Linked DNA regions of Homo sapiens: regions 2, 3 and 4 are each linked to region 1. Evidence: fine-mapped expression QTL. A gene starts in region 1. Each other region holds a variant in brackets. All regions are shown on one strand. Distances are from middle to middle. Region 1 holds the start of MARK2 (microtubule affinity regulating kinase 2). Region 2 overlaps MARK2 (microtubule affinity regulating kinase 2). Region 3 has its middle 8.8 kb from the start of NAA40. Region 4 overlaps MARK2 (microtubule affinity regulating kinase 2).

Evidence for each region.
Region 2: its variant is fine-mapped to the expression of MARK2 in whole blood (INTERVAL, PIP above 0.99).
Region 3: its variant is fine-mapped to the expression of MARK2 in whole blood (TOPMed, PIP above 0.99).
Region 4: its variant is fine-mapped to the expression of MARK2 in whole blood (TOPMed, PIP above 0.99).

What each region holds. Positions count from the first base shown.
Region 1 is chr11:63,836,238-63,841,380 of GRCh38, forward strand. MARK2 (microtubule affinity regulating kinase 2) reads left to right here and starts at 2,873. Exons shown (of 19, transcript NM_001039469.3): 1 at 2,873-3,323. The coding sequence starts at 3,270. RefSeq lists enhancers at 1,559-2,547, 2,808-2,957 and a silencer at 2,968-3,207.
Region 2 is chr11:63,908,557-63,913,699 of GRCh38, forward strand. It overlaps MARK2 (microtubule affinity regulating kinase 2), which reads left to right. Exons shown (of 19, transcript NM_001039469.3): 19 at 321-2,464. The coding sequence ends at 681. It overlaps RCOR2 (REST corepressor 2), which reads right to left. Exons shown (of 12, transcript NM_173587.4): 9 at 4,314-4,391; 10 at 4,120-4,177; 11 at 3,749-3,978; 12 at 2,674-3,623. The coding sequence ends at 3,309. Among named protein-coding and RNA genes, the nearest start is that of RCOR2, 6.0 kb to the right of the region's middle. RefSeq lists a silencer at 1,701-1,995. The variant T/TTTA (reference allele first, on the strand shown) is at 2,098.
Region 3 is chr11:63,927,670-63,932,812 of GRCh38, forward strand. It overlaps a transcript of RCOR2 not described here. Among named protein-coding and RNA genes, the nearest start is that of NAA40, 8.8 kb to the right of the region's middle. The variant G/A (reference allele first, on the strand shown) is at 2,242.
Region 4 is chr11:63,878,772-63,883,914 of GRCh38, forward strand. All of the region lies in intron 1 of MARK2 (microtubule affinity regulating kinase 2), which reads left to right. It also overlaps the pseudogene RNU6-1306P. Among named protein-coding and RNA genes, the nearest start is that of RCOR2, 36 kb to the right of the region's middle. The variant T/C (reference allele first, on the strand shown) is at 2,723.

The DNA.
Region 1 (5,143 bases):
AGGGGGTAAATGTGTGGCAATAATTCATCTTTGAGGAGAACTAGGAGGGTTCATGGATTTGAGTAGGTGAGATTTGAACTGGATCTTGAAGTGGTTCTGGAAGCTGAGGTGGATGATGGGCAATCATCTATCAGCTTGACCAAAGGCATGGAAGTGAGAGAGACTGGCAGCGGGGTAGGAGTTAGGGAGAAGTGTGATCAGTGATAGTTGGAGAGGTTATTGTAAGGCAATGTGAGGCCAGATTGAGCAAAGTTTTAAATGCAGGCTAAAGGCTTTTCCTACAGCCAGGACCAGCTACATAATTTGTGGGGCACAGTGCAAAATGGAAATGCATGGCCCCCTTGGTCAAAAATTTCAAGATAATGGGCCGGGCGTGGTGGCTCACGCCTGTAATCCCAGCACTTTGGGAGGCCGAGGCAGGTGGATCACTTGAGGTTGGGAGTTCTAGACCAAACTGGCCAACATGGTGAAACCCTGTCTTTACTAAAAACACAAAAAATTAGCCGGGTGTGGTGGTGGGCACCTATAATCCCAGCTATTCAGGAGGCTGAGGCATGAGAATCACTTGAACCTGGGAGGTGGAGGTTGCAGTGAGCTGAGATCGCACCACTGCACTCCAGCCTGGGAGATAGAGCGAGATTCAGTCTTAAAAAAAAAAATTTCAAGATGGTGACAGCAGAGCATTAATCCAAGCTCAGGGTCCACCTGAGCACAGGGCTCTGTGTGACTGCATGGGGTCGTGGGCCCAAGAAGCCAGCCCTGCCTATAACCAGTGAGGGAGCTGGTGATAGCTTTCTAGCAGAGCAGAGATGTTATTGGAGCTGGACTTTGGGAAGATTATTCTGACATGTCTGGTGCAGTAGGTTGGAGGGAGTCTAGGCGGGGAGACAAGCTCAGCAGCCTTGTGCAAAGCTAGCAAGGAAGAGAAAGGATAGGTAGGGTAGGGGTTGGGGATGAAGGTCAAAGGGCAGGGGTGAGGCAGGGGTTAGAGCTAGAGTGAGAAGCTTGGAGAAGATGGAGTCTATTTAGACGAGAGTGTGGACCAGGGAGAGACTGCTGGAACACCAACCACCAACTGCTTCCTCTCTCTTTTCCCTGCTTTCCAGACCCTGGCATTAGAGGTGATACCAGGCACAGGAATCAGCAACGTGTCTCCCTTTGGCCACCAGAGGGCAGATGATTCTCAAGGATCGAATTTGGGTTGGGGAGTGAGGTGTTCTCTGTCCTCCTCTTCTCTCTTTCCCTCACCTTCATGGGTGTGCCTTCACCTTCTTCCTCAACGGTTGGGTGCCTGAATAGAGCTGGTATGGGGCATGGGGAGCAGTGCTGAAGTCCCAGGATTTACTAAGAGTGTAGTGATACCTGTTGCCTTAGGAAGTACTTTCATACCCTGGTAATTACATCTGCTCAGATGCCTATTTCTCTGATTGATGGGATGAAGGCTGGCTCAAGATGCTGTAGCTGGGAGTTGGAGGTCAAGTAGCAGGGGTCCAATCAGCAGTTTTCCCAATAACTCCTGGAGCCTCTCTGCTCCTGTACCTTTGGGAACCTGTTGCCTGAGTCTGGTTTCTGACTCCTGCGGGGCCTCTGCCTCCTGCCCACCTTAAGCCACTGATGGGAGGGTGTGGTTCCAACGTGTTCCAGGTACTATGGGTGAGGACAGCTTGGCGCTGGGGAAATCAGCCCAGGATACTCCCTGTCCTTGGTAACGCAGTGTAAGGGGAAGTGAGGAATGGACTGCAGTTGCCATACAGACTTCCTGTTAGTCAAGGGCTCTCCAAAGCTGAGAAGGACCTCCGAGTTCATGAATCCAATGGCTTCACTTTACTGATGGGGAAAATGAGGCCCAGAGGAGGAAAGAAAAGAAACTTTAAATGCCTTATCTTGCAGAGGCATTTTAAAAGGTAACTGGAATTCAGAAATGTCATTTTGAATGTCAACGCAGGAGCAAAGGCAAAGGAAAGAGGAGCCTAAACTCAGTGATGTTATGTGATTTTTCCAAGATCACGCAGCATTGGCACTTGGCAGAGCTGGGGCTGAAATGCAGGGCCCTGGACGCTCCCGCATCCGGTGCAGAGGACGCTGCCCTGGGCCTGCCTGGGGCCTTGCCGAGCCCTGCGGACTAGATGCGGGAATGCACGGATGAATCCACAGAAGCCAAGATAGACGGTGGCAGACAGGCAATAGACTGATGCTGCATTTGACAGGTATATTGATAGGCTAGATGATAAAAAGAAGATGAATTTTATGAGCTGACCGACAGATGGACAGAAATGCAGACAGGAAGCTGCTATAGAACCAGAGGATGCCAATCACAGGGACGGCTAACAATCTTGTTTTGTATTTAGTCAAATCACAAGCACAGACAGGTGACCCACGCTTCCTGTTCAAGGTTTGAAAATGCCCGAAAACTGACGGAAAGACACGAAGCGAATCAGACTCCGAGAGCCACCCGGGGAAACGACCGGGTGCTCGGAGGGCCTCGGGTGTTGCCGGAAATGGCCGACGACCGCCCTCGGCAGGGCTGTGGGAGGGGGCGTGGCCGGCTCAGCACGCGGAGCAGCTTCGGGTATTTCCGGAAACTGCCGAAAGCCCCCTTGAAGTGGGCGGGGAAAGGCCGGTGGGCGTGGCTGGATGGCCGTGGACGGGGGCGGGGGGTAGGCACCCGGGGTCGCTTCGTGGATTTCCGTAAACAGAGCCGAAGCTTCGTCTTCGGAATCGAGGAGGAGAGCGCGTCCCCGGGGTTTACCTTCTTCGGCTGTTTCCGGAATTCACCCGTAGTCTGTGGCCGGGAGGAGAAGGCGCGCCCCACCTCCCGTTTCTAGCCGCTTCGGATGTTTCCGGCTGCTGCCGGCGAAAAGAGCCGAGGGCCGGCGGTGGTGGCGGCCATGTTGGGAGCAGCAGGTCCGGCGGCGGCTGCCTGTGTGCCGGGCGCGGAGCAGTGCCGCTGAGGGCAGGGGAGGAGCGAGGCAGGCGGCCGGCTGCGGCGGCAGAGAGTAGGCGGAGCGGCGCGGCCCGGCCGAAAGGCGGCACAGCCCAGCCGGGGGTCGGGGGGGTGCGGTCCGGAGCCGCTCGGAGCCGGCGCGGCCTAGCCCGAGCGGCGCATCCCCGGGCTGGCGTGAGCGGCTGCCCGGCCTCCCCGCACCCCCGGCCGGGGCCCATGCGGCGGGTGCTCCTGCTGTGAGAAGCCCCGCCCGGCCGGGCTCCGCGCCTTCCCTTCCCTCCCTTCCTCCAAGCTTCTCGGTTCCCTCCCCCGAGATACCGGCGCCATGTCCAGCGCTCGGACCCCCCTACCCACGCTGAACGAGAGGGACACGGAGCAGGTAAGGAGCCCCGAGGGCTCCCCGAATTCTCTGGCTGGGCCCTTTGCACCTTGCGGAGCCTCCTCCCTCTTCTGCTCTCCTCGTGCCCCTGCTGCCATCCTGCAAGCCTCGGCTGCCCTGTCATCCGGCTCCTGGCTCCGGCTCCGCACATCCCGCTTCCGAGTCCTGACCTGGGACCCACCTCGTCCTGACTCCAAGCTGCACACTTGTCTTTCTGCCAACCCCCGTCTCCCCTCACCGCCCTCCTGCGCTCTTCCGTGTCACCTCCCCAGCTTCCCTTTCTCTTCCCTTTTTCTCTCAGGGGCCTTTCTGGTCTTCCTCCACCCACGCTTAAAGCAGCCACCCTCCCGCTCCTCGAATAGCAGCACCCCGCGATTTGCCACAGATCGTTGTCCACCTCTCCCTTCGTCTCTCCTGCCTCGCTTCCCCTCCGCCCGCACCGGTTCTGCCAGTCTCTGGGTTATCACCCTCAGGGTCCTTGCCCTGGACTGCGCTCTCGATCCCTGGCCCCTTGCAGTTCCCCCAGCTTTTTCTACCCTGCTTCTTCGTTTTCCAAATTGTGCTCTCCCTCTTGCTTGCAACCCACCAGCTCCACCCTCATCACCTTTCCAAATCCTTCGCCTACTCTTTGCTCATCACTTTCCCTTCTTTGCTCCAGGAGCTCCCTGGATCCTGGCGCTGGCATTTGTCGCTTCCGTGTTTCCCCACAGCTGTCATGCGCATAGTTTTCCCACAGGTTGCGTTTGGGGTTCCAATCATCACTCCCTTCAGAGTCTTTGGATCCCTCTTGTTCTCTTCCCCTCGGGTTTGGCTTTTAGGTCCCTGGGCCTCTTGTTTCTCTCTGTGAGTGTTCTACCAGCCTTCTACTGGGCTCTTTCTCCCAACCCAAAGACACTTGGCCCCACCGTATTAACACAACCTGTTGCTCAGTCCTTTCCCAGACCTCGCTGCATCACAGTTTTTGCCTTTCTGTCTTCGTACGCTGGAACACAAACCATGATGACTTTCTGTGTCTTCACTCCCGTGCCTGGCACTTAGAGTATTTTCTTTCTTGCTTGTTGCCTTCCTGTTTCTCCACCCTCACCCCATCTTCCTTACTGTGCCTTTTAATCAGCGTTGCCTTTCATCTCCGCATTAGTCTCCTGCCTTCTTCATGTCCTGTGTATCCCCACACCGTGCTTGGATCCATTCTGTTCCTATTGGCTAAGTCTCTGTAATGCCCAGGAAGTCCAGGTGTTTTGCATGCTAGTTTCTTGAGCTACACCTCAGCCTCACGACTCTACACGGTCCCCCTCATCCTGGCAGTCACTGCTATGTTTTTCACCCAAGTCTTAGCCTTTCTGTGTCATCTCACTTTTGATCCCAGAGACGTCCACTTTCCACACCTCCCCTTTCTTTCACCATCTCTAGCGTCCTTTGCTGACTGCTCTGTGCAGAGTCCCCTGCCTGTCATACCTTTCTTGGTGGAGAACTTTACTAGGCCAAAAAAACTTGACTTGAAAAAGAAGTGCTTCTGCCCCGGGGCTGCTGTGCTTTTTGCCTTCTTTCCCCTCCTTCCATCCTTTATGTTTCCCTCTTACTCCCTTCTTTCTTTGTAGCCCGGTAGAGCAGTTGTTGTATTCTCTTGCATGTGAACATTCTTCTTTGAAAAATCTTACCTCCTTTCTTTTACTGTGTTTTTCTATTTTGTTACCCCCTGGCCCTCTGTCACCTGGGCAGTTAGGAACTAAAGAGAAGTTCTAGGCAGAGTTTTTCTCTGCAGGGTTGACCCTTTTATTACTTGTGGATTATTTGCTTCTGGGGGTGAAATAGGGGTTGAG
Region 2 (5,143 bases), 72 kb after region 1:
TACCCCTGGACTATCCCACCTCCCTGTGCTCGGAGGCTTCTTTCTGGAGAGAGAGTCTGTGCTCGTGCTGTTGAGGGCACTGGTGTCTTCCCTGACCCCACCCCGCCTACCCCAAGGCTGGCTTCTCCTCCCCTTCGCTGTCCTGAGAGATGGGGGTTGGAGGACTGCCACCCTCCGCCCCCGCAGGCCAGGGGCCACGCCTGGCTGCTCCTGCTCCCTCCCGCTCTCCTCTCTGGGCTCAGGGGCTGTCTGCCAGGGTGGCTCTCCTGGGGTGGGGTGCCTCAGCCCCCCCGTGACGCCCGCCTCTGCCCTCTCCACAGACCTCACGTGGTGGGCAGTGGCGGCAACGACAAAGAAAAGGAAGAATTTCGGGAGGCCAAGCCCCGCTCCCTCCGCTTCACGTGGAGTATGAAGACCACGAGCTCCATGGAGCCCAACGAGATGATGCGGGAGATCCGCAAGGTGCTGGACGCGAACAGCTGCCAGAGCGAGCTGCATGAGAAGTACATGCTGCTGTGCATGCACGGCACGCCGGGCCACGAGGACTTCGTGCAGTGGGAGATGGAGGTGTGCAAACTGCCGCGGCTCTCTCTCAACGGGGTTCGATTTAAGCGGATATCGGGCACCTCCATGGCCTTCAAAAACATTGCCTCCAAAATAGCCAACGAGCTGAAGCTTTAACAGGCTGCCAGGAGCGGGGGCGGCGGGGGCGGGCCAGCTGGACGGGCTGCCGGCCGCTGCGCCGCCCCACCTGGGCGAGACTGCAGCGATGGATTGGTGTGTCTCCCCTGCTGGCACTTCTCCCCTCCCTGGCCCTTCTCAGTTTTCTCTTACATGTTTGTGGGGGGTGGGAGATTGTTCTCCAGCACCCCACATTCACCCCTGCCCAGAGATTCCCCCTTCTCCTCTCCCCTACTGGAGGCAAAGGAAGGGGAGGGTGGATGGGGGGGCAGGGCTCCCCCTCGGTACTGCGGTTGCACAGAGTATTTCGCCTAAACCAAGAAATTTTTTATTACCAAAAAGAAAAAAGAAAAAAAAAATCCCAGCGGCCACCTTTCCTCCCTGCCCCATTGGGACAGTCGAGACTGGATCTGTGGGGTTTCCCGGGAGGGTGGCTCAGGGCTGGAACACTCTCAGGCAAGAGTGGTGGAGCTCCCGTCAGGCCCTCCGCCAGGCCCACTGTGGGCTTCTCCCCTCTCCTCCCTCCTTCCCCTCCAAGCAAACCACCAGAGGTGGCCTTCCCCTGACCTCAGGCCCCTGGGCTGGAGGCCTGGGCGGTGGGGCAGGGGGCGGGGGTGCTGCGCAGCCCTGCAGTGGGTGGGGCTGGGGGCTGCTCCGGGGCTGCTGAGGCTGGAGGGCCGGCACAAGGCTCCGCCTCCCTCCACACTGTACCCTCTGCCCCTCCTCCCCAGAGCTGGGCATTTCCTTCCACAAGCTGCTGTGGGGACGTGTGTTCCCTCAAAGTCTGTGCCATCTTCTCCCACCCCTCCCGGGTAGAAGGAGGGGCTGACCCCAGGGCTGGGAGAGGGGAGGGGACTGGAGGGCAGACTGGCTTCTCGGTCCCCAGGGGGCCGCTTGGGCTGTTGGTCTCCAGAGCAGGGCCACTGGGCACTCTGTGATGGGGGAGCCTTTGTCTGAAAGCACAGCCCCCTCGCCCTTCCTCTCCCCATGGCTTCCCCTTCATTGGCATTAATCTGGGCACCAGCTCTCTCCATAGCAGTGACTTCCCTCACCACTCTCATCTCTCAGCCTTGCCTTTTCTTCCTGACACTGTCGCCCCCTCCTCTCAGGAGACACTGCCGAGGGCCACCTGGCAGAAGGCTGAGTTAGGCAGCAGGGCCGGGAGCGTCTGCCCTCCACAGGGTGGGGGACAGATAGGCTAAGCGACTCCCAGCTTGCTACCCTCAGTGGCCAGTGTGGGCGTGGGCGGTTTGGGGCGCTTGGCTGGTGGTGGCCACTGCATCCCTTAATTTATTTCTCTGCTGTTTCTGTTCTTGAGAAATTGGGGGTGGGAGTCCTACACAGAGGCTGCCCCTACCCTCACCTGAGTTGTACATTTTTTTGTGATGGGTTTTATTTTTTATTATTTTATTTTAT[T/TTTA]TTTTTTTTTTTTGATTTATGATGACTCCACCCCTCTTCATCACCCCCGCTCCCAGGCCAGGCTCAGCGATTAAGCCGAGCCCTTGCGTCCTAGGAAGGGGCCTTGCCAACCTCAGCCCTCCTGCCCCACACTCCTACTGCGGCTCAGACCAAGGGCTCCCCCTCCCTCCCTTCCCCCCTCCTGCCCTATGGAACAGCCCGGGTGCTCTGAGGGGGCTGGGAGGGCATGGCTTGGCTCCCAAAGGGGGTAGGGGCCCGGGGCACCCAGGCAAGGTGGCCCCTCCCCGTCTAGCCCCCTCCTCCCCAACCCTGCACTTAGTTTCTCCTCTGGATCAAACACGTAATAAAGAGAATGTTTGGAATCTGAGCTGCCTCCTCCTGTTTCTTCTCCCAGCCAGGCAGGGACCCAGTCTCCTGTGGGCAAGATGTGGCCTAGCCCACCTGCCTTGCAGGAGAGACTTGATTCCTGTCTGGGGCCAGTGCTGGGTGGGCCCAGCTCCCCACTTACCCACAGGGCACAGACAGGAAGCAAAGCCCAGGGCCCTTGCACCAAAAGGGAAAGAAAACTCAGTAAGCTTAGATTTTATTTTTTTTAATTTTTAAAAAATGTTGAAAAATAAATCCATGTCTGCATAAGTTCCCAACCCCCATTTCTCCAAGTTTCTGGAAGGTGGGCTTGGTGGGCACCCTCAGCTCCTTAGCATTTCCCAGCTGGCCCCTGAAGACAGAGCTTCTCTTCCAGCCTCTGCTGCTGTAAGGCCCCTCTGCCCACCTCCCCCCCTGCAGCCTCCCTCCCCACCTCACCCCAGACTTATTGCTAAAAGAAGGGAAAGAGGAATGAGAACAGCCAGCACACCCAACTGCCCTCTCCCCACTCCACGCTAAGGTCACTACCCCGGACACACAAAGGGCAGGACCCAGAGGCCAAGCCCCAGCAGACTAGGACACAGCCATTCCAGTACCGGCCAGGAAGCGAAAGTGCCCTCAGGCCAGCTCAAAGGCCCCTGAGCCCGGCCATGGCCCCAGGAGACAGGCCCAGCTGCCAGGAACACATGCAGAACCCAAAGGGCGGGGCTGGGCTGTCCGAAACTCTGGTCTTACAAAGACCCCGCCAGAGCCCTAGTCCCTTCTGTCCTCAGTGACACCAGAGATGCCTGGGGATGGCCAGCAAAGGGGTCCTGGAGCCCGTGGTTGGTGGAGGACGTCAGGGCTCAGAGTGAGGGTGCTGGGGGCTCCAGAGGGGTTCCAATCAGGGTGGGTGGGGGCTGAGGGCCAGGGCGGGCGCTGTGGCGGGGGGCAGCCAGAGCGGGGCGGATGAGAGGCGGTGGGGGCTGGTTGGGGGCCAGCCGGGGCTGGAGGAAGCGGCCCTGCTGCAGTGGGGGTGGCTGTCGGAGCAGAGTGGGAGCCGTGGGCAAAGGTGGCCTCAGCAGCGGGGGTGGCTGGGACAGCGAGGTGGGAGGTGGAGGGGGTGGTGGCGCAGGGGGCACTGATCGGGGCACGGACGTGGAGACCGATGTAATCTGGACCTGAGGGGAGAGGAAAGAGTGAGAAGCCAGGCTCTTCCCGCCCTCAGCCCAGTCTAAGGACCAAGGCGGCGCCTCACCTCGCCTCGCCTCTCCTCTCTGAGGGGTTTCTCTCACCCCCTTCTCACCTCATCATCTTCCTCTAGGGCTGGGGCTGGCAATGGAGCCCCTCTCCTAGCCTCCTCCATGGGGACTGGGGCTCCAGGGGCCCCATCCTGCTCAGCCTCCCATTCCTGCAGCACCTCCTCCAGATTGAAGCGGCGCCGGTAGCTCACAAAGAAAGTCTTCACCTGGGTCAGAGTCTTGTTCCCAATCACCTCTGCAATAGCCCCAAAGTCTTTGCCATACCTACGGATGGCTGCAAGGGTCAAAAGGGCAGCAGCGTCAATACCCCTTCGAACTAGTTACTTCCCTGACCCTTCCCCTCTGCCCCCCCACTCCTTGGAGGGTGGGGAGATAGATTCCTGGGGTCCTCTCTTCTCACCACAGTTTAACCCACCTTGAACAGCCAAAAGCTGCTCATCTGTGGTCCAGCGGGAGTTGAACTTGGTGTTGGCCTGGAAAGCAAGGAACAACATATCCTTTAGACTCAAAACCATGCAAATGGAAGCCCTGCTCCCCAAGCAGTACTCTTTCTGCTCTGCCTCCAGAGAGAAACCCCCCTTTGCACCCTAACTTAAAGAGCAGCCATACCTCCGGGGGGCGTAGTGGATCAATACCGCCCTCCAGGGCTTGGCGCAGGCTGCTGTTCGTCTGCTTCATGCTCTGTACCTGGGAAGGCCAGGAAGTGGAGGAATATCAGACTCCCATCTCAGGCAGGCCACTATGCCCCTCACAGGACCCTACTTCTGCACAGACACCAGCACCACTGCCCCGGCAAAGCTTTCTGCCATCCACCATCTGGCTTGTTCCTCCTAAACAACTACTCAGTAGGGGAGCCGCTGGGGTTCTCCCCTTTCTGCAGACCAGTTTATATTTTTATTTTTTATATATATATATATATATATATTTTTTTTTTTTTTTTTTTGAGAAGGAGTTTTATTCTTGTTACCCAGGTTGGAGTGCAATGGCGCAATCTCAGCTCACCAAAACCTCTGCCTCCCGGGTTCAAGCGATTCTCCTGCCTCAGCCTCCTGAGTAGCTGGGATTACAAGCGCCTGCTACCACACCTGGCTAATTTTGTATTTTTTTTTAGTAGAGACAGGGTTTCTCCATGTTGGTCAGGCTGGTCTCGAACTCCCGACCTCAGGTGATCCACCCACCTCAGCCTCCCAAAGTGCTGGGATTACAGGTATGAGCCACCGTGCTCGGCCTATTTTTTTTTGAGACGGAATCTCACTCTGTCGCCCAGGCTGGAGTGCAGTGGTGCAATCTCAGCTCACTGCAACCTCCGCCTCCCAAGTTCAAGAGACTCTCCTGTCTCAGCCTCCCGAGTAGCTGGGATTACAGGTGTGTGCCACCACGCCCAGCTAATTTTTGTATTTTTAGTAGAGACAGGTTTCACTATGTTGGCCAGGATGGTC
Region 3 (5,143 bases), 91 kb after region 1:
TGGGTGCTTAACTAATGGTTGCTGGGAGAATCAGCCTCAGGTGTCCCAAGCACCACTTCCCCAGGAAAGCCCTTCCTAACTGCTCCCAGCTCCCTAACAGCCCCCAGCTCCCTAACTGCCCCCAGCCCCCTTCCTAACTGCTCCTCCCCTCCCTAACTGCCCCCAGCCCCTCTCACTACAGATACCCACACTGGTAGGTCCAAGAAGATCACTTCTGCCAAACCTATCTTGATTTTACCAACATATCAGGACCTGCTCCTTGAAGGCAAAGTCTTGTAATAATAGTAGAAGTAAGAGCCAATTTCAAGTGCTTATTAGTTAGTTTTTCACAACTACATTCCCAAACCCTATTAGTGCAAGTATATAGTAGGTGTTTAAATACCATTGTTAAATAAATTAGTGGAGGAATAAACAAATGAAATGAATGCATATATATACCAACCACCATGTGCAAAATGCCTTACCTGGGTTATCCCATTTTTCCCCCATAGCAGCCCTATTTTCCAGACGAAAGGCTGAGGCTTCAGGTCACCTGCCTAAGATCACACAGCTTGATGGTGGCAGAGCTGAGAGCCAGTCCCAAGCTGGGTGATACCAGAGACATATTTTCAAAATCTTGTGTCCCCTCCCTTTCAGTTAAGATGCATGTGGCTGCAAGTAGAGGAACAGCCACTCAGTGATGACTTGGGCAAAGCAGGCATTTTACCTTTCCTAAGGAGTCAGGAGGTCAGTGTCACCACTGACAGAGGCTCAGTGGTCATCGAGGTCTCAGGTGCTTCTCCTTTCTCAGCATTGTCCCTTCCACGTATCAGATTTCTCCTCATGATCACTAGATGGCTGCAGCTGCTCCAAGCATCCCATCCTCTGAGGACAATTTCCAGAGTGGGAGAGGAGGGGCAGGGAGCACGGACTCTCTCCTTGGCATTTGTCTTGTTATCTATCAGGAAGAACAACCCTTCCCAGGAATCCCAGAACAGCCCCAAGTCCCTTAAACCAATCCCTCAAAGGAGAACAGGATTCCTAGGCTTGGATTAGACCCATGGTGCTTGTACTCCAGCACACCTGCCATGACCCCTACCCATCACCCGAGCAAAGGCGGGGTTCTGCCGTTGTCTTAGTCCATTGTGCTGCTGTAACAGAACATCTGAGACTGGGTTATAAAGAACAGAGGCGCCGGGCGCGGTGGCTCACACCTGTAATCCCAGCACTTTGGGAGGCCAAGGTGGGCGGATCATGAGGTCAGGAGTTCGAAGCCAGCCTGGCCAACATGGTGAAACTCCGCCTCTACTAAAAATACAAAAAATAGCCGGGCATGGTGGCGGGCGCCTGTAGTCCCAGCTACTTGGGAGACTGAGGCAGAAGAATTGTCTGAACCCAGGAGGTGGAGGTTGCATTGAGCCGAGATGGCACCACTGCACTCCAGCCTGGCGACAGAGCAAGACTCTGTCTCAAAAAAAAAAAAAAAAAAAAAACAGAGGCCGGGTGCGGTGGCTCATGCTTGTAATCCCAGTACTTTGGGAGGCTGAGGTGGGTGGATCACCTCAGATCAGGCATTCGAAATCAGCCTAGCCAACATGGTGAAACCCCGTCTCTACTACAAATACAAAAAAAATTAGCTGGGCATGGTGGCACATGCCTGTAATCCCAGCTACTTGAGAGGCTGAGGCAGGAGAATCACTTGAATCCAGGAGGCGGAAGTTGCAATGAGCCGAGATCGCCCCATTGCACTCCAGCCTGGGCAACAGGGCGAGATTCTGTCTTAAAAAAATAACAACTACTACAACAAAAGATTACTGGGGCCATGTTGGTGGCTGGCTACACAGGCCGGATAAGAGGTCTGGTACTAGAGAGGGTTCTGGGGGTGGAGGTCCTGAAAGAAGAAACAGAGATTTTGGGAAACATGGAGCCTTGGGAGTGTGTTAGTTTTCCCGGGCTGCCCTAATGAAGTATCACAAACCAGATGGCTTAAAACAACAGCAATTCGTTTTGTCCCAGTTCTCCCAGAAGCTCAAAATCAAGGTGTTGGCAGAGCTGGTTCCTTTTCTAGGCTCTGAGGGAAAACCCACTGCGTGCCTCTCTCCTTGGCAGTCCTTGACTCCTAGTTGCCTCGTTCCAGTCTCCGGCTCCGGCTTCACATGGCTGTCTTCCTGCTGTATCTCAAATCTCCCTCTGCTTTCTCTTCTAAGGACACCAGTCATTGGATTTAGGGCCCACCCTAAATCCAGGATGATCTCATCCCAA[G/A]AGCTTTAACTTAATTACATCTGCAAGACTCTATTTCCAATTAAGGTCACATTCACAGATACAGGGTAGGGGGATGGTTAGGACTTGAACATATAATCTGGGGGGATTCTATTCAACCCACTGTGGGAGATATCTCCATGGAGGGGCTGTTGGTGTATGACCTAATAGTTCCATCTGCAGGGCTCAGGTGTTACCTCCTCTAGGGACCTTGCTTCTTTTGTGCCCTACAGCACCTGTGCCTGCCGCCATCACTGCCCATATTCCTTCAGCTAACATTTACTGAGTGTGTGCTTTACACCAGGCACCAAGCTGGTGCCAAATTTAGCACATAAAAATACAAGACGGCTGGGCATGGTGGCTCATGCCTGTAATCCCAGCACTTTGGGAGGCCAAGGCGAGGGCATCACTTAAGATCAGGAGTTTGAGACCAGCCTGACCAACATGGTGAAACCTTGTCTCTACTAAAAATACAAAAATTAGCCAGGTGTGGTGGTGCACGCCTGTAATCCCAGCTACTCGGGAGGCTGAGGCAGGAGAATAGCTTGAACTTGGCAGGGGGAGGTTGCAGTGGGCCAGGATGGTGCCACTGCACTCCAGCCTGGAGACAGAACAAGACTCTCTCTCAAATTATTTTATTTTATTATTTTATTTTTTTTTTCCTCCCAGGTTCAAGCGATTCTCCTGCCTCATCCTCCTGAGTAGCTGGGATTATAGATGCCCACCACCACGCCCGGCTAATTTTTGTATTTTTAGTAGAGACAGGGTTTCACCATGTTGGCCAGGCTGGTCTTAAACTCTTGACCTCATGTGATCCACGTGCCTCAGCCTCCCAAAGTGCTGGGATTACAGGCGTGAGCCACTGTGCCTGGCCAGTTAAATTTAAATTTCAGATAAATGGTAGTCGGGCGTGGTGGTGCGCAGCTGTAATCCTACCTACTTGGGAGGCTGAGGCAGGAGAATCACTTAAACCCAGGAGGCAGAGGTTGCAGTGAGTCGAGATCGTGCCACTGCACTGCACTCCAGCAGAGTGCTACAGAGCGAGACCCTGTCTAAAAAATAAATAAATAAAACAGAAAATAAATTTCAGATAAACAGTGAGTTTCAGTTTGTCCCACTTATGGAATCTGGCAACCCTAACAGCAGAAAGGCACAGTCACCCACTGCAGGGAGCACAGGATGCCACATGGAGCAGCGGCCCTGGCCAAGCGGGCAGGGGTGGAACAACCATACAGAGTTTAGAGCCGCAGAAGGCCTTTAACTGACCAACCAGATGTGGGTTTTAGAAAAACAGGGGCGTGTGGTGTCACAGGAGCCAAGGGAAGAACAGTGTTTCAAGGAAGAGGGAGGGAATAACAGAGCTACATGTTGCAGGAAGGGCCGGAAAGATGAGGCTGAGACAGGGAAGCACAGTTGGAGTTAGCAAAACTGCTGGAGGCACCAGGAGGGAGGCGTAGGTTGCAGGGGACAGCAGCCAAGCTGCAGGGGTTGAGGAGTGAGAGGAATGAGAAGCTAAGGAAGGAGACACAGGGTAGGCTGTTGCCTCTACAAGCTTTTTGTGTGTGTGTGTGTGTTTGTTTGTTGTTGTTGTTTTTGTCACCCAGGCTGCAGTGCAGTGGCGAGATCTCGGCTCACTGCAACCTCCGCCTCCTGGGTTCAAGTGATTCTCCTGCCTCAGCCTCCTGAGTAGCTGGGATTACAAGTGTGCGTCACCACTCCTGGCTAATTTTTTTTGTATTTTTGGTAGAGGTGGGGTTTTGCCGTGTTGGCCAGGTGGTCTCAAACTCCTGACCTCAAGTGATCACCTGCCTCAGCCTCCTAAAGTGCTGGGATTATAGGCGTAAGCCACCACCCCTGGCCTCCACAAGCTTTTGAGTAGGGAAGAGAGGCCCCCTAGGGCGGGCAGGAGCCAGGAAGGAGCACAAGCGAAGGAGGCCTGGGGAAAGAGGTTCACAGCCGGGAGGGACCCTGAGGGGCCTTAGCGTTTGACACTCTAGGTGGACCTGGCCTTGGGTGGCAGGAGGAGAAGTGTAAATTCAGATTCTTCTGGGGAAGTCCGGGGACTCTCAGCTGCCCACTCATCACACAGTGCGATGACTGCCCTCCCCAAACGTGCTCTCCTTCTCTGGCAGGAGCTGTCTCCCAAGCTGTTCCTCCGCACAGAAGGCAAAGCGGAGCACATGGCGGCCCCCGTGCCTTGGCTGAATGAAGGAGTGAATGAATACTTGGGAGCGGCTGCGGGCCATAGAGGGAGAAGAGGGCAAAGCCTGGAGATTGGGAGTGGCTGTGTCTGAGGCATAGGGAGGAAGAGGCAGCGGAGGAGGGAGGAGCCAGGGAGTCCAGGGGCCTCGGAGAGATGAGGGAGACAGAGTCCCTTGCCGGAGAGGTCGGAGCCGAGTGTGGAGAAGGGGTGCTTCAGCCCCCTGCGTGGGGGTTGGAGAGAAGGGTAAATGAGGCAGCGTAGAAAGCCTGGTCAATGTGGGTGCGGCGGGAGGGATGCGATGCCAGGGAGGGGAGAAGGGGACACATACTTTTTTTTTTTTTTTGAGATAGAGTCTTGCTCTATTGCCCAGGCTGGAGTGCGGTGGTGCAATATCGGCTCACTGCAACCTCCGCCTGTAGGGTTCAAGCGATTCTCCTGCCTCAGCCTCCCAGGTAGCTGGGACTACAGGTGTGCGTCACTACGTCTGGCTAATTTTTTTTTTTTTTTAGATGGAGTCTCGCTTTGTTGCCCAGGCTGGAGTGCGGTGGTGCGATCTCTGCTCACTGCAACCTCTGTCTCCCAGGTTCAAGCAATTCTCTGCCTCAGCCTCCTGAGTAGCCGGGATTACAGGCGCCCGCCACCAGGCCGGGCTAATTTTTGTATTTTTAGTAGAGACGGGGTTTCACCCTTTTTTTTTTTTTT
Region 4 (5,143 bases), 43 kb after region 1:
GAGTTGGAACTCTGAATTCATTTCCTGTTCTGGGCTATGGTTTAAGTCTTAAGTACAATTCACGTACCCCTTGAAATACTATGCTGGGACCTCATGGGCTGGCCTGAGAACACAGCTACCATTTGTAACATGTTTCTATGGAAAAAGAGTTCCTTCTTAGAACAGAACTTTTGGTAACTTGGGGATTTCTTGACTAATATGCTGCAACAGATTTGCATTTGCCTGTGGAAGTGTCTCTTTATTTTGTATTCAGCTGGGCACGGTGACTCACGCCTGTAATCCCAGCACTTTGGGAGGCCGAGGCAGGCAGATCACTTGAGGACAGGAGTTTGAGACCAGCCTGGCCAACATGGTAAAACCCCATCTCTACTAAAAATACAAAAAAATAATCTGGGCCTGGTGGTGAGCGCCTGTACTCCCAGCTACTCTGGAGGCTGAGGCAGGAGAATCACTTGAACCCAGGAGGTAGAGGTTGCAGTGAGCTGAGATGACACCACTGCACTCCAGCCTGGGCGATAGAGTGAGACTCTGTCTCAAAAAAAAAACATTTAAAAAATCACATTTTGTGGTCATGGCACTATCTATCACACAAGTAAGTTGTCCTCCTATATGCCAAATGACAGAAAAGAAGCACCCTCCTCTTCCCACCCAGAAAGGTTGCTAGAGAGCTACCCTTGTCTTCTGTGATTGCCTTGAGGGGCAGGTTTGTCTGGGTTCTCCATGTCAGCTGATTTGATCCATAGTCCAGTAGCACCTGAAACAGGATGCCCTCATTCCACAACTTAGGTGCCCTCTCCTGCTTGGTTTTTTAATGATCTGCTACAGGAGAAAGATAGCACCTCTCCCTTCAGCAGGAGCAGCCCAGTAAGGGCTTGCTTCTAGAAAGATTGGCCAGTTGGATTTTTAGTGGTCACTTAAGTGGAGTAGCCACTTTGCAGCCTGGCCCAACAGGGAGACAGTTCTGAGGTGAGGGTGGCAGTGACAGCCTTGGGGTGGTTTCTGATGTGCTCTGACCTCTGGCCATGGTGACTTCTGGAGCAACAAACTTTGTCCCAGTATTTTTTTCTGACATTTCCTCCTCCTTATTCAACTCCCTCTTTGAAACTGGAGGAGTAGGGAGGCAGTATTTGTTCACTTCCAGAGAAAGATGCAGCAGGAAGAGGCATATGTCTTGTTCTGCACTTTCCAGCAGCAATGCTGGGACTAGGGGGTCTAGAAGGCCTGTTTCCCAGCTCCAGGCTGGATCTTATCCTCAGCATACAAGCAAGTTTTAAGGAAACAACATTGGAAAGGGCAGAAACAAAGGGTTAAATCTGTACCCAGGTAGAAAGACTGTTGCATAAATGCTGAGTTTTTTTTTTGTTTTTTTTTTTAAGATCTCATGCTTCTTTTTTACTTTGTGTTGGCAAAAACCCCAGGAGAAGATGGGAGATTCTGGGAGGAGATGATTATGCTGGGTGAGTCAACTGAGCTCCCCAGCTGCCGTTTTTAGTTCTTTTGCTTTTCTGTAACAGGAGGCAGTTTGGGGAGGGGTTGGGGGCAGGGTGGGAATGCTGATTTTTGCAGCAGGACAGGAGGCAGGTGTGTATGGGTGAAATTATTTTGACACCCTAGAGTTAACCGGGCCTTAGAGTCAGTACATTGGTTCAAGTAACAAATATCAAAGCAGAACTCTTAGTGTGGCAAACAATAAATAATTGTCTCCTAGATTCTTATACAAGTCACTGTCCGTCCCCAATTGGTAGCTCTTAGAATGGCTCGAGTTGCATTCATTGTCACAGCAAGACACAATGGTTTTGATAGCAAAGCAGTAGAGAAACTAAATGTAGAGAGGCAGAGAGAACTGTATTAAGTCTGAGGACCTGGTGGTTGTCATGGGCAGCAGGAAGTGTGAAGGAGAGGGTTTTCCCTCCGATGAAAGGAAGGCTAGGGCTTGATTCAGGGGAGCAAGTGGGATGGGCCCTGCTGGTCCCTGGCTGTGCCTATATTCTGAGTCTGTCTCCAGCTCACCTTGGTGATCACTCACTTTTCATCCATCACTGGGATAGGGGATCTCGTGGCTCATTACCCTCATGGGTATTTTTTGCAGAGTACACTGAAGTGGGCTATCAGTTATCAGTTGGTCCCAGAGACCGTCATGAAGACATCGCAAAATGTTTTCTTATGTATTCATTTGTGCACATTTATTAATTCAGTACTTTACTGAATACTGTGCTGGGCATTGTTCTGGGCCATGAATAAGACAGACCTGGCCTGGTGCAGTGGCTCACGCCTGTAATCCCAGCACTTTGGGAGGCCAAGGCAGGCAGATCACCTGAGGTCAGGAGTTCGAGACCAGCCTGGCCAACATGGTGAAATCCCGTCTACTAAAAAAAAAAAACAAATTAGCCAGGCATGGTGGTGGGCACCTGTAATCCCAGCTACTTGGGAGGCTGAGGCAGGAGAATCGCTTGAACTCGGGAGGCAGAGGTTGCAGTCAGCCGAGATCACGCCACTGCACTCCAGCCTGGATGGCCAGAGAGAAACTCTGTCTCAAAAAAAAATACCAAGGTCCCTCCTTTTGTAGTGTAGTCTAGCAGGAAGGACAGATAGTAACCAACCAACTTCAAGGGCAACGAATGCCTCGAAAGAGGGGAAATGGGGCTGGTAGCAAGAAATTGTGATCTTCCTTCCTCTACCCTTATCTCTTGGGGTCGAGAGTGGGGTCGAGAGTGGGCAACTT[T/C]AAAGATCAAAAAGTTGTGCCTCTCTTGTTCCCTAAGTATTGTAACATGGGTCAGCTAGGTGTGGGCACTGTTGGGCACTGAGGGTATATGAAGGTGAGGGAGATACTGGCTCTCATCTGTCAGAGCATGAGGGGGTTAAGGTATGGGGACACAAACAAGAAATCAATGGGGCTGGGTGTGGTGGCTCACGCCTGTAATCCCAGCACTTTGGGAGGCTGAGGCAGGAAGATTGCTTGAGCCTAGGAGTTTGAGGCCAGCCTGGGCAAGATGGCAAGATGCCATCTCTACAAAAAAAATGAAATAAATAAAAAACTAGCCAGGCATAGTGGCACACACCTGTAGTCCCAACTATTCGAGAGGCTGAAGCAGGAGAATCCCTTGAACCCAGGAGTTTGAGGATGCAGTGAGCTGTGATTGTGCCATTGCAGTCCAGCCTGGGCAAGAGAGCAAGACTTCATCTCACAAAAGAAGAAGAAATGAAGAGTACAGATAGAGCGCTGAGAGTCTAGAGAAGTGAGTCTAGAGAAGTGAGTGACCACTCCCCGCTAAGACGGTGTCTGGATTTGAGATAAACAACGGATAAGAGGACTTACCTGGATCACAGGAAGGCGCATAGGATAGATGACCACTTTCCTTTTAGTATGTGTAGATCTGGGTAGCTCTTTGTACCACAATTCTGACCCATTCTTTTTTCTTATTATTTTTATTTATTTATTCAAAATAATAATTTTTTTTTTGAGACAGTCTTGCTCTGAGCCACCATGCCCAGCCTGAAATAATAAAAGTTTTAATCTTTTAAAAAATATGGGCCAGGCTTAGTGGCTCACACCTGTAATCCCAGCACTTTGGGAGGCCGAGCTGGGCGGATCACCTGAGATCAGGAGTTCGAGACTAGCCTGACCAACGTGGAGAAACCCTGTCTCTACTAAAAATACAAAATTAGCCGGGCATGGTGGCGCATACCTGTAATCCCAGTTACTTGGGAGGCTGAGGCAGGAGAATCACTTGAAACCCGGGAGGCGGAGGTTGCAGTGAGCCGAGATCACGCCATTGCATTCCAGCCTGGGCAACAGGAGCGAAACTCTGTCTCAAAAAAAAAAGGAATGCTTCACAAATTTGTGTGTCATCCTTGCACAGGGGCCATGCTAATCTTCTCTTTATTGTTCCATTTTTTTGTATATGTGCATGTACAGAGTAGTGGAGCTGGGTTATCACTACAGTCTAACTCCAGAATGACACCCTTCACTACTATACCATATATGGTGCCCCAGTATACAGCAGTGGAGCTAGGAAGAAAAGCCCAGTGTCTAGAGAGCCCAGAAAATATGCCAAGAACATATATACTAGGCAAAGAAAACGAGGTTAGGAGGAAGCCCAGCCACCTCAGCTGCACTGGTTAGGATCTGCTGCCTCCCCACAGTCCTCTGTAAAGTGAGCCAGACCTCTATGCTGCAGGCTTCCTTCTGCCTACCCCCACCACCCCCATCCCCCAGAGCCCTGGGCTACTGGCAGGCTGGCTCTCCTGTGATATGGAGGAACTTGTTGGTCTCCATGGTTACGGTAACCCACTGGTATGGGAGGAACCGCATAAAGTGCGAGGCTGGCAGTGTGAGCTTCCCTCAGCCCTTGGCACCATGTGGTACTGGTATGTCGGCTGTTTCATGGACCTTTTCTGGGAGGAGGGAGTTAAGGAACTGATGAAGAAGGGAAGAACCCTGGCAGGACCACTGTCGTCATCCTCTGGGCCACACAGAGGGCGAAGGCATGGGCACCATGTCATTCAGCTACTCCTCCTGCAGGATGGTTTTATGTTAGGAAAGAGGGTCCTCTTTGCCTGATTGCCCAGCCATGGCAGAATTTGACTTTTCCTTGTTATAGAGGGAATACCAGGATGACAGGAATCAACTTAGCTATACTGGTACTTACAGTCAAATTTCTAGGTATTGTAGCTCTTCCCAGAGCCCAGAGAACCCTTGGAGAGGGGAAACAATGGTTCCTACCCAAAAATGAAGCTAGATAATAATAGAATACATCATCAAGACATTACTGAACACCACGTTCTATGGTAAACACTGACATGGATTTTCCTTTTTTTTTTCCTTTGAGACAGGGTCTTACTCTGTCACCCAGGCTGGAGTGCAGCAGTGTGATCACGGCTCACTGCAGCCTCAGCCTACCTCCCTGGGCTCAGGTGATCCTTCCACCTCAGCCTCCCAAGTAGCTGGGATTGCAGGCACTTGTCACCACACCCCGGCTAATTTTTGTGTTTTTTTGTAGAGCCTGTGTTTTGCCATGTTGCCCAGGCTGGCCTCGAGTTCCTAGGCTCAAGGGATCTGCCTGTCTTGGCCTCCCAAAGTGCTGGAATCAGAGGTGTAAGCCACCACGCCCGGCCAGATTTTCTCATTTAATCTTCACTCTAA